2 separate regions of the Homo sapiens genome follow, and region 1 is linked to region 2. The links come from fine-mapping of genetic effects on gene expression. Tissue or cell type: gastroesophageal junction. Region 2 holds a variant in brackets; the other region holds the start of a gene. All regions are shown on one strand. Distances are from middle to middle.

Region 1 (5,157 bases), 460 kb after region 2:
CAGCCAAGACAAAAATGGAGAAGCAAAAGGAACAGTACCCATCACTGAAATTATTCATTCAATAAATATTTTTTGAGTGTTAGATGCTATACTGAGAATTTGAAAGAAAAAAAAAAAAAGACTAAGCAAAAAGCAGATAGAATCACTGCCCTTGTGAAGTTTAACAAAAGCTGATAGAGCTTTTATTAAATATGTTACCCCCCAAGAAGCACTGTATATGTTGAAACTACCCTTATTTTTAAAGCAATTTTTGATGTCTGTATATTATGGTTAAGAAAATCAGCCTTGCTTATGGTTCCATTTACCTACTTTAAAGATATTTACCTATATTTTAAAACACCTAACAGCCTATTTGTCTCAAAAAGTTACATCCTAGACAGCACAAACGGCAAATTAAACGGATACCATATTACTTTACCATTTACAACTCAAAGTGCTGTAATAATTACATTATACAAATACAGTCAATGAAGAAGGTCTTCTTGCTAGATAAACATTTGTAATAATTCAAGTATTTTTTAAAAAGTCACTGTGAGTTATTGCATTTAAGTCCTGGAATAATTATCTGTATTCCACTTAAGATGCTAGACACATTTTTACACAAGAAAAATAACGGAAAAATACAGAGAAATTGCAAAGGAAGAAAAAGTTTCATCATCATCTGATTCTTAAGAGGAATATCACTAGGTGATGATTAGGAGTCTGATGGAGGAAAGTAATTTTAAAACAACTTAATGGCTCAGAGAAGTTCCTAAGAAATTGATGCTTAGGGTTTCAATTTTTCTTAATACTCAGATATAAGACTTAAAGAAAATATATCAGCATGTTAAAAACCAGTTATCTCTGAATACTAGGCTTACTATAAATAGTTCTTTTTTTTTTTTTTTGACGAAGTCTCCCCCTGTGGTCCCGGCTGGAGTGCAATGACGTTATCTCAGCTCATTGCAACCGCCTCCCAGGTTCAATCGATTCTCCTGCCTCACCCTCCCGAGTAGCTGGGATTACAGGAGCCCGCCACCACGCCCGGCTAATTTTTTGTATTTTTAGTAGAGACGAGGTTTCACTATGTTGGCCAGGCTGGTCTCGAACTCCGACCTCGTGATCCGCCCGCCTCAGCCTCCCAAAGTGCTAGGATTACAGGTGTAAGCCACCGCGCCCGGCCCAATAGTAATTATTCTTTTATTGTTTCTATATTTTTCTGAAGGAAATACTACATTTACAGTTATAAAGCATTAAGGAAAGGCAGGCCTTAAAATAAATCATTGACATAAAGACTAGGTATCCTCCACAGTCCCACTCTTAATAACAACTGCAGAACCAGCACTAGCACTGTAGCTGAAAAGTGGATAGTACACACACGCTCACATACACAATGGCTGGCATGTAGTAGGCACTCAACTAACGTGTGAAATGAAATGGCTGAAGATAATGTAAACAAGCCAAAACAACGAAATGCACTCTGATTTGGGGGCAACACAGTAAACAATCACAGTAACTACCACTTTATCCAAAGCTCGCTGACAGCTGAATGGGCATTAAATGAAAGAGCTCTTCTTCCTTGCCCTCCTCTTTCACTCTGACGCTAGATTGCACATTCAAAACAAATCCTCCTCCAGCCCCGCCCCAAGCTCTACCCTCCAGTACCTTCAGCACTGGAACTGACACAAAGTCCAGGGCTGCGACGGTGTCCAGACCCGGGCCCCTGTCCAAGGAGCTGCGCGCTCACAGATTTGGCTGGCGCAACATAGGCGGGGGCACTGGGCGGCAGCCCATCATGCCCGGGACCCCCAAGGACCCGCGCGGAAGCCCAGAGCTCTCAGCCCCGGCGGGAGGCTGGTTCCCCTCGCCCTGCGCTGCCGTACCTGCACACGGTGATCAGGTTCCTCCTCTCCACCGCAGCATTGCGGGCGCTCAGGCTTTTCTTGCCGCCTCCGCCGCCACCGCCGCGGATCCCGCTCAGGCCCCCCAGGCTCCGGGAGGCCATGGCGGGCTTACCCCCGTGCCCCTTTTGTCTCGTGCCACCCCGCACGCCCCCCACACCTGCTTAAGGGGGTTCTCGCTCGGTCCGCAACCGTGGGGGCGCGGGAAGGATGTAGGAAAGGAGCCTGGAGGGAGGAAGGGTGTGGAAGACAGCAGGGACTCGCACCCGGGGACTGACGGCTCGCCCTTGGCACCCGAGCTCCACACACACACACACACACACACACACACACACACACACACGCACGCACGCACCACCTCCGCCCTCGGCGCGCCGCCGACTGCCGGGCTGCGCCTGCGGGTCGGCGTCAGGCGCTCTCCTCCTTCCCGAGGGACCTCAGCAGACGGCGCGCGCGCGAGCCCGTCGGCCCCTCACGCCCAACCACCCACACTCCGCAGCCACTCGTGCCCCAGCCCGGGAGGCAGCGGCAAGGCCCCCGGCCTCGCGTGCGCAGCCCCACCCTCTCTGCGCCTATCAAATCAACGCTACCCCCGCCGGATCCAATCGCGGCACCAGAGGGGCGGGGCCGGCCGCGCGGACCTTTTAAAGCAGCGGGCTCAAGCCCCGCCCCGACGCGTGGGCTGCTGTCAAGGACGCTGGGCTCGCTTTCGCAGCCCGCTAGCTGCCGCCAGTAGCCACACAGGCTAGCCGCGGGGATTGTGGGATGCGGGGCCCCACAGCGCCAGGGGCCTATTGCCCCCCCCTTGCCTGTAGCCAAGCTTTAACGGCTGATACCTATTTGCGTGGCTGCCGTAGCTTCAGTGCCTGCCTAGAAAGCAGCGCGCCGGCTCCCACACCCGACCTTGGGCCTAAGTACTAAGAAGGGAGGAGGGTTCCTTTTGTCCTGACGCCCTCCCAGGGGCTAATAAACAGCAACACAATGGCCCGAGGGGGGAATTGCTCGTAGAATCTCCTTCTTGGCGCGTCTAGTGCCGACATTTCTTGCCCCTCCACACCATGTCGCTCCCACCTCAGCCTCCAGCGCAGCCCGCACCCGGGACTGACGGCCCGCCTAAGGAGGAGCGTGGTGCCAGTGTAGAGTCTTTTCGCGTCCTGGGCCGTGACTCCGGAATCGGGAGTCCGGGTCTGGGAATAGTAAGCCCAGGAACGACGCGGCCTCGGTCCAGCTGGGCTGCTCCCTCAGAGTCCTGGAACGCCCTCCTCGACGCGCGTGTTCGGAAGCGCCCCCTTCCTAGAGCTTCTCACTACCCACCGTTTTACCTGCAGGAGGGTCCCAGCTTGGGTCAGGTCCTCTGACACTCACCTACGCCTGCTGTTCACCTCCCTTTGCACCAATATGCCCAGATTTTAGAGTGCAATCCTAAATGACTTACTCTCCCTATGGGACCTAGCACAGTGCTGTACATAGAACAGGTTCTCAATAAATGTTTCTCGAATTTAATTTGAAGTCACATTTGACATAATTTTTACTGAAATTTCACGGCTTCAGTGGCTCCAAAATCCATGTATCTTTCACCTCTACTTTTGAAGTTTCTGTCAAAGAATGTCAGAGAATATATAGTTTTGTGTGGCTATCTCTATTTTTCTTATATATTATCCCTGTTAATGCAGGGCATACTGTTACTCTTGAATGTTTTAACAACGCACGTTTGTGTAATAAAGTTGTAAATTCCTAATTTCTGAGGTTTTTAAAGTTTAAAAATCTCTATTTAAAATAGTCAAAAAATCATCCTTTTCAGCTACCATGTCTAATTTTATTCTACTATTCTGTTTAGTAGAATAAAAATATATGGGCTGGGCGCGGTGGCTGACGCCTGTAATCCCAGCACTTTGGGAGGCTGAGGCGGGCGGATCACGAGGTCAGGAGTTCGAGACCAGCCTGACCAACATAGTGAAACCCCATCTCTACTAAAAATACAAAAATTAGCCGGGTGTGGTGGCACGCGCCTGTAGTGGCAGCTACTCGGTAGGCTGAGGCAGGAGAATCGTTTGAACCCGGGAGGCGGAGGTTGCAGTGAGCGGAGACTGCGCCAGTGCACTCCAGCCTGGGCGACAGAGTGAGACTCCATCTCTCTCTCTCTCTCTCTCTCTGACATATATATGACATATATATGACATATATATGACACATATATATGACACATATATATGACACATATATATGACACATATATATGACACATATATATGACACATATATATGACACATATATATGACACATATATATGACACATATATATGACACATATATATGACACATATATATGACACATATATATGACACATATATATGACACATATATATGACACATATATATGACACATATATGACACATATATATGACACATATATATGACACATATATGACACATATATATGACACATATATATGACACATATATGACACATATATATGACACATATATGACACATACATATGACACATATATATGACACATACATATGACACATATATATGACACATACATATGACACATATATATGACACATATATATGACACATATACGACACATATATATGACACATATACGACACATATATATGACACATATATGACACATATATATGACACATATATGACACATATATATGACATATATATGACACATATATATGACATATATATGACACATATATATGACATATATATGACACATATATATGACAATATATATGACACATATATATGACAATATATATGACACATATATATGACAATATATATGACACATATATATGACAATATATATATATATATATATATGTCTCAGCCTGGGCGACAGAATGAGACTCCATCTCTCTCTCTCTCTCTCTCTCTATATATATATATATGTACATATACATATATATGTACATATATATATATATATTCCTCTCTCTCTAGCCATACGTATATAGTGTCAGTCTTAACTAATGTGCTATGATAAATATTCATTCATACATTAAAATTTTAAGAAAACAATTTAGTCAGACTTTACACTTTATCTTTCAAGTTAATAAAAGCAGGCGAAATTTCTATATATGGATGTTTGTGACTAGTCAGTGCACTTCTTCCAGAACATTACGTGTCTGCTCTCCTGTGACACGGAGGCTTATAAAGAGTCTTCTTTTCCTAGGAGCTACAACTTAACTTGTCTCTTCTTGCTAGTTCAACAGTTTGGATTCAGAAGTAGCCATCAGGAAACAGATGC
Region 2 (5,157 bases):
CAGGAAGTAAAGAACTGCCGCTGGTGATCCTGACATGCTTCCTGTCATGAGTGGAATCAGAAACTAGCAGTAAGAATGGGTAGAAGCCACCAAAGACTTTGCCAGAAATTCTGTACAAATTGCCACTTTACCTCAATAATGATATCAGAACTAATATTTATGGAGTATTTCCCACACCCAAAGCTCTGAGCTACATGTTTGTCTTGTTTAACAGAGGAGGAAAATGAAGTATAGGAGGCATAAGTAAATTGTCTAAGGACGTACGTATATTAACTGGCAAAGTCAGGATTTGAGTTTAGGTCCTTCTAGCCCTCACAATATTCATGGTCTCTAAGCTTTACTGTCCTCAAACCACAGATATGTCCTGGAGTTAAAAATAACAACCAAAAAATGGGTACCATTTGTTAACACAATTCAAGAAGTTTATTTTTTTTATTTAATCAGAAAGACAGCAGGACTTCAAGAAAATAGCATTTACTCTGTCCAAAAATCTAATTGCTATGTGGAATACCTATTAACCCCACTCAGAATTACCAAAGCAACCACTCTGCCATCCACAGAGTTAGAAAATAATTTCCAGATTTTCAAGAGAAGAGAAAACGAAGGCAAAAAGTGACCAATGTAGGAAGTCCAAAAACACTGTTAGTCTGATTTCCTTTACATTGTACCTGATTCTTCTGAGTTGAGGCTCTGGTCAAATACCATCCTCCTACTTTCATCCCTTTTCTTCCTGTGCACTTGCTCCACCTCTTATTCTGTCCACCTTCTCTGGTTTCTTTCTGCCCCTTTCACACACCAAGATCCTGCATCAAGGCCTCTGGCCTTTGCACATGCTGATTTGACTACCTGAAAAGTTGTTCTGCTCCCATTTCATTCACCTGTTATTTTTTGAACTTTGGAAATAATATCATTTCCTCAAGAAAGTCTTCCCTGACCAACCAGATGAGGTCAGGTCTCCCAGCAAGTGCCCTCAGAGCAACATGTAATTCTTTTCAACACTTATCATTTCTATCATTTACAAAGAGTTCTCAGTAGTTGCCTGCATCATGCCTGTCTCTCCTACTAAAGGACAAGCTTCATGAGGGCAAGAAATGCATCATCTGTTGTTTATAGCTATATCCCTGTCACTGGCCCCTGGCAAGCACTCAACTCATGTCTATTGAATAAATGAGGGTTGAGAACACACATTGAGTATCTGAGAATTATGGCTTTTTTTCTATTCCACTGTAAATCTCTCATGTCAGCTTTCCAGCCACTTAAACTCCACATGCCTGAGTTTTTATGAGTGGCTATGGGGAAAATCAAGTCCATCTGCTCTTTTTCTACCTCATAGGTGCAAAGAAAATAGTGTTATGATAAAATATCAAATGTGGCCAGATGCAGTGGCTCATGCCTGTAATCTCAACACTTTGGGAGACTGAGGCAGGTAGATCACTTGAATTTGAGACCAGCCTGGGTAACGTGGTGAAACCCCATCTCCACTAAAAATACAAAAATTAGCCGGGCATGATGACATGCACCTGTAGTCCCAGCTACTTTTAGGACTCAGGTGGCAAAATCACTTGAGCCTGGGACTCTGAGTCTGCAGCGAGCCAAGACTGCGCCACTGCACTCCAGCCTGGGAGATAGAGTGAGACCCTGTCTCAAAACAAACAAACAACAACAACAAAAAGAAAGAAAAAAAGAAACAAAACAAAACAAAAAACATCAAATGTAGCACTGATCAATTATCCTCCTTCAAAAAGGCTGTAAACACTCAAACCACTCAATACCAATAGTATATATTCTCTGGTCTTTATTACCTTTTCTGATTTTATAGTGGCCACACCTTATTCACTGGAAACTAAGGTATTTTTATTAATGAATAGGAAAATAATTGTAGCTTATGACAACACCAAGGGAATAATTTGTGATTTTTTTTTTTTGCTTCAAACCAGTTTAAAATCAAAAACAGTATTTCTACTACTTTCTGTTCAATTATAATTACTGTAATAGTTCACTCTAGTTTCAAAAAAATTGCAAGAGTAGATTTGGAAAAGACATTCTATAATGAAAAGGTTAGTTCTATAATTAGAATTAAAATAGTAAATTCTATTATAAAATAGCTAATTAGTTCCATACATGGAAATATCATCAGTTAGTGCTACTTTGATTTTTAAAAAAACTTATGGCTGAATATGTCTTTTAAGTTTATAGATAACATCTTGAACATTAACAGATGAAATAACTCTTTAGATAGTTAACTGGGGGAAAAAAAATCTTATACCAGAAAGAAAATAAAGGACTTTCTACTCAAATAGGTTACAAACAGAGCTTAGGAACAGAACTCATGCTGACAGCAGCTGTCACTTTTCATTTTTCCTTTCTTCCAGCACTAAGACACCTGACCTGTATAAACTGGCAATGGGCCAACATATTTTCCTCAGGATACAGAGTTAAGACCACTTGCAATCTTAACAATGCCATTAAGGCAGTTGATGCATTATACATGATGATGGACCTAGAGCAACCTTGCTTCAGTCCCAAGAGAAAGCAAAATTTACTTAATCCCCCCAAATTTTTTTCCTATAATGCAAAGAGAATTAAATCATGAAATCTGAGACCTTCCTGAAACCACACTGATTACAAGATGGCAGAGGAGCATATGTCTGCATAAGCCTGCCAGGGGGGAAATGCACACATCAATAAGCTCATCCAGAAGATACTAAATGATGCCTAGTGGCAGATAAAAAGTAAAGTTAGGAAACATACCTGGAATAACTGATGTTACATGTAAAGTTAGGAAACATATCTGGAATAACTGATATTACATGTGAGGAGGAAATAAACACTTTATCAGTTTGTTTGTTAGATTTGTATGGCTCTTTTACTCTCTTCCTGCTTGCGGGCTGTGTATGTTGTGGAACGGAGGGTAAAAGAGGTA[G/A]GGGGGATGGGTATTTTGAAGCTCTTTGGCAGAGATACAATCAAATATCTTCTAGTCTCTTGGCAGGATAATGGTATGTTTCAGCTTAGTTACTCTTGCCCATAAAACTTCACATTTACTCCAGATGCAGATAAATTTACACATAGGCAAAAGATGGGCATAAACTGAGCCATGTGTTTGCCATGTGCAAGACAGTAACATATTTCAAACTATAATGATTTGAAGCGATGGTGCTCCCCTGTGCTGAACAATACACAATCCAACTTCTATGAAGAACAAAGAAGGACTAAAAATGAACTCCAAAATGAAATAGTTTTTAAAAAAAGCGGGGGGTGGGGGAGTCTTTAGAAGGCATTGGTCTTTGGAATAAAGAAAATTTTATATTGGAATAATTGGGACTCACCTGAACTAACACATCTTCAATTCTGGCCTATTAAAACAACTACTAAAAGAGACGGTGAATTACAAATGGTAAATTGTAGAAGGGCTGTAATTAAAATATTTGCATTCTAATTCCTCTGCTATTATGATCATTTATTTCCATAGGGAGGATAAACTACAGTAGATTATAGCACACATTCTGGTGCCAGACTTCCTTTCTTAAAATTCTTGGGCAAGTTAGTTAAACTTTCTGTGCCTTCATTTCCTCATCTGCAAAATGAGGATAACAGTGGTATTACTTGGGGATAAAATGACTTAACATATGTGAAACACTTAGACTGGCATCTAGCACATAGTAAATACCATACAAGTATTTGCTATTACTCCAACTGCTACCAGTACTTTTATTAATCCTAAATCCAGTTACTAGTATTGATCTCATCTGAATATCATAGGATTGAAAGACATACAGATTGCATAATACAGGAAATCCCTGGTGTTAAAGTGAGCACTTATAGGAATATATAATATTTATTTGTAAAAATACAAGACTTTGACAATGATGTAAAACAGAAATACAACAAGTCATTATATTTTTTAATTCCATTAAGATGAGTGTCATTAACTAAAAAGAATAATCCATCAGTAGCCTTAAGTAAGCAAAATGAGTTTGGATTTGTAAGGAGAAAAGGTTAACTCTTCCAAATGACTAACAGTAAATTACTGGCGGCAGTTATTTGCCCCTAAGACTGAGTTAGGGAGCCTGAGTTAATAGACAGTATATGAAAGCATAATCTTTCTACAGGACAGCAATATACAGTAATTATTAATCAATGAAGCTAGCTCACTATGACTTACATATACTAACCATCAAAACTATAATATTTCCAGATAAACTTTTGTTCAGTATTTAAAATACTTCTGTGAGAATATCACAGTTCTTGAACGAGTAACAGAGAAAATTAATGAGTATTCCTCTGACACAATTCACTATTTAAAAATGAAAGTACTTAAAAATGGGCAACAGCTCAAACCCACAGGAACCAAGGGACACGGTTTCCTGTGTTGGCCCTATCTGCAATTACAGAATCATCTCTAAATCAGAAGATCTTAATATTGTTTCCCATAAGCACCATGAAATTCAATTCAATAATTTCTCATTAAATTACCATATGGTGAACCCTACTTATGGAATCACTTTTAGAAAGTTGAGCTCTTATTCTTGTAGGATCTTTATATCCTGAGGTTTTAAAAAAATCATTTTATTTCAGTAATTAGGGGAGAATGGAGTCATTAAAATATAATAATGTTTAAAGCTAGCCTACCTACAGCTAACAACTAAATATTCATGTATGAAGATGTATTGATAAATATTTTTAAAGTCATTTTAGTTTCATTACTAGTCAAACTGACATTAAGTCGTGGCCAAACTGTTTTTCAGAGAATGGTCTTGAAAATAAATTTTTGCAAGTCACCTAATTTTAAAATCTGTGTATTTGTGGTTAACTTGGTTCTGATTAGCATAGAAAGACACCATGTTCATAGCTATACCATCCAAAATTTCCTCTCCTGTCTGAGAGAACCTATGTGAGGTACCTGCATGCTCATGCCACAACCTGTAACACCTGCACCTGAGGGTTCTCTTTGTTCCACACCAAAAGTTCTGCTCTCAGAGTTTAAGCTTAACAGCAAGAGTCCTTAACCTAAATCTCCCAGCAAGTGCAGCAAGGAAAACATAAAAACAGATTTTAACATACAGGTAGTCACATCTGCCAAACAACCCTATCATTGCTTCATTAATTGTTTGTGATCATTTTAATCAACTGTATTTACACACACACTGTTAAAGAATC

Alleles and levels. Positions count from the first base shown, and alleles are read on the strand shown. Sizes are in standard deviations (SD) of each study's normalised expression.
In carriers of allele A in region 2, the expression in gastroesophageal junction of the gene that starts at base 2,410 in region 1 tends to be lower than with G alone (large effect, 1.0 SD a copy in GTEx).

What was found. PIP is the estimated chance that this variant, and not a neighbour inherited with it, causes the effect.
Region 1: it holds the start of RUNDC3B, and the variant in region 2 is fine-mapped to the expression of RUNDC3B in gastroesophageal junction (GTEx, PIP above 0.99).

Annotation. Positions count from the first base shown.
Region 1 is chr7:87,625,651-87,630,807 of GRCh38, reverse strand. RUNDC3B (RUN domain containing 3B) reads right to left here and starts at 2,410. Exons shown (of 11, transcript NM_001134405.2): 1 at 1,863-2,410. The coding sequence starts at 1,984. It also overlaps a transcript of ABCB1 not described here. RefSeq lists silencers at 2,166-2,215, 2,266-2,495 and an enhancer at 2,361-2,655.
Region 2 is chr7:88,090,053-88,095,209 of GRCh38, reverse strand. The region is part of intron 4 of ADAM22 (ADAM metallopeptidase domain 22); the gene reads right to left. Among named protein-coding and RNA genes, the nearest start is that of SRI-AS1, 120 kb to the left of the region's middle. The variant G/A (reference allele first, on the strand shown) is at 2,924.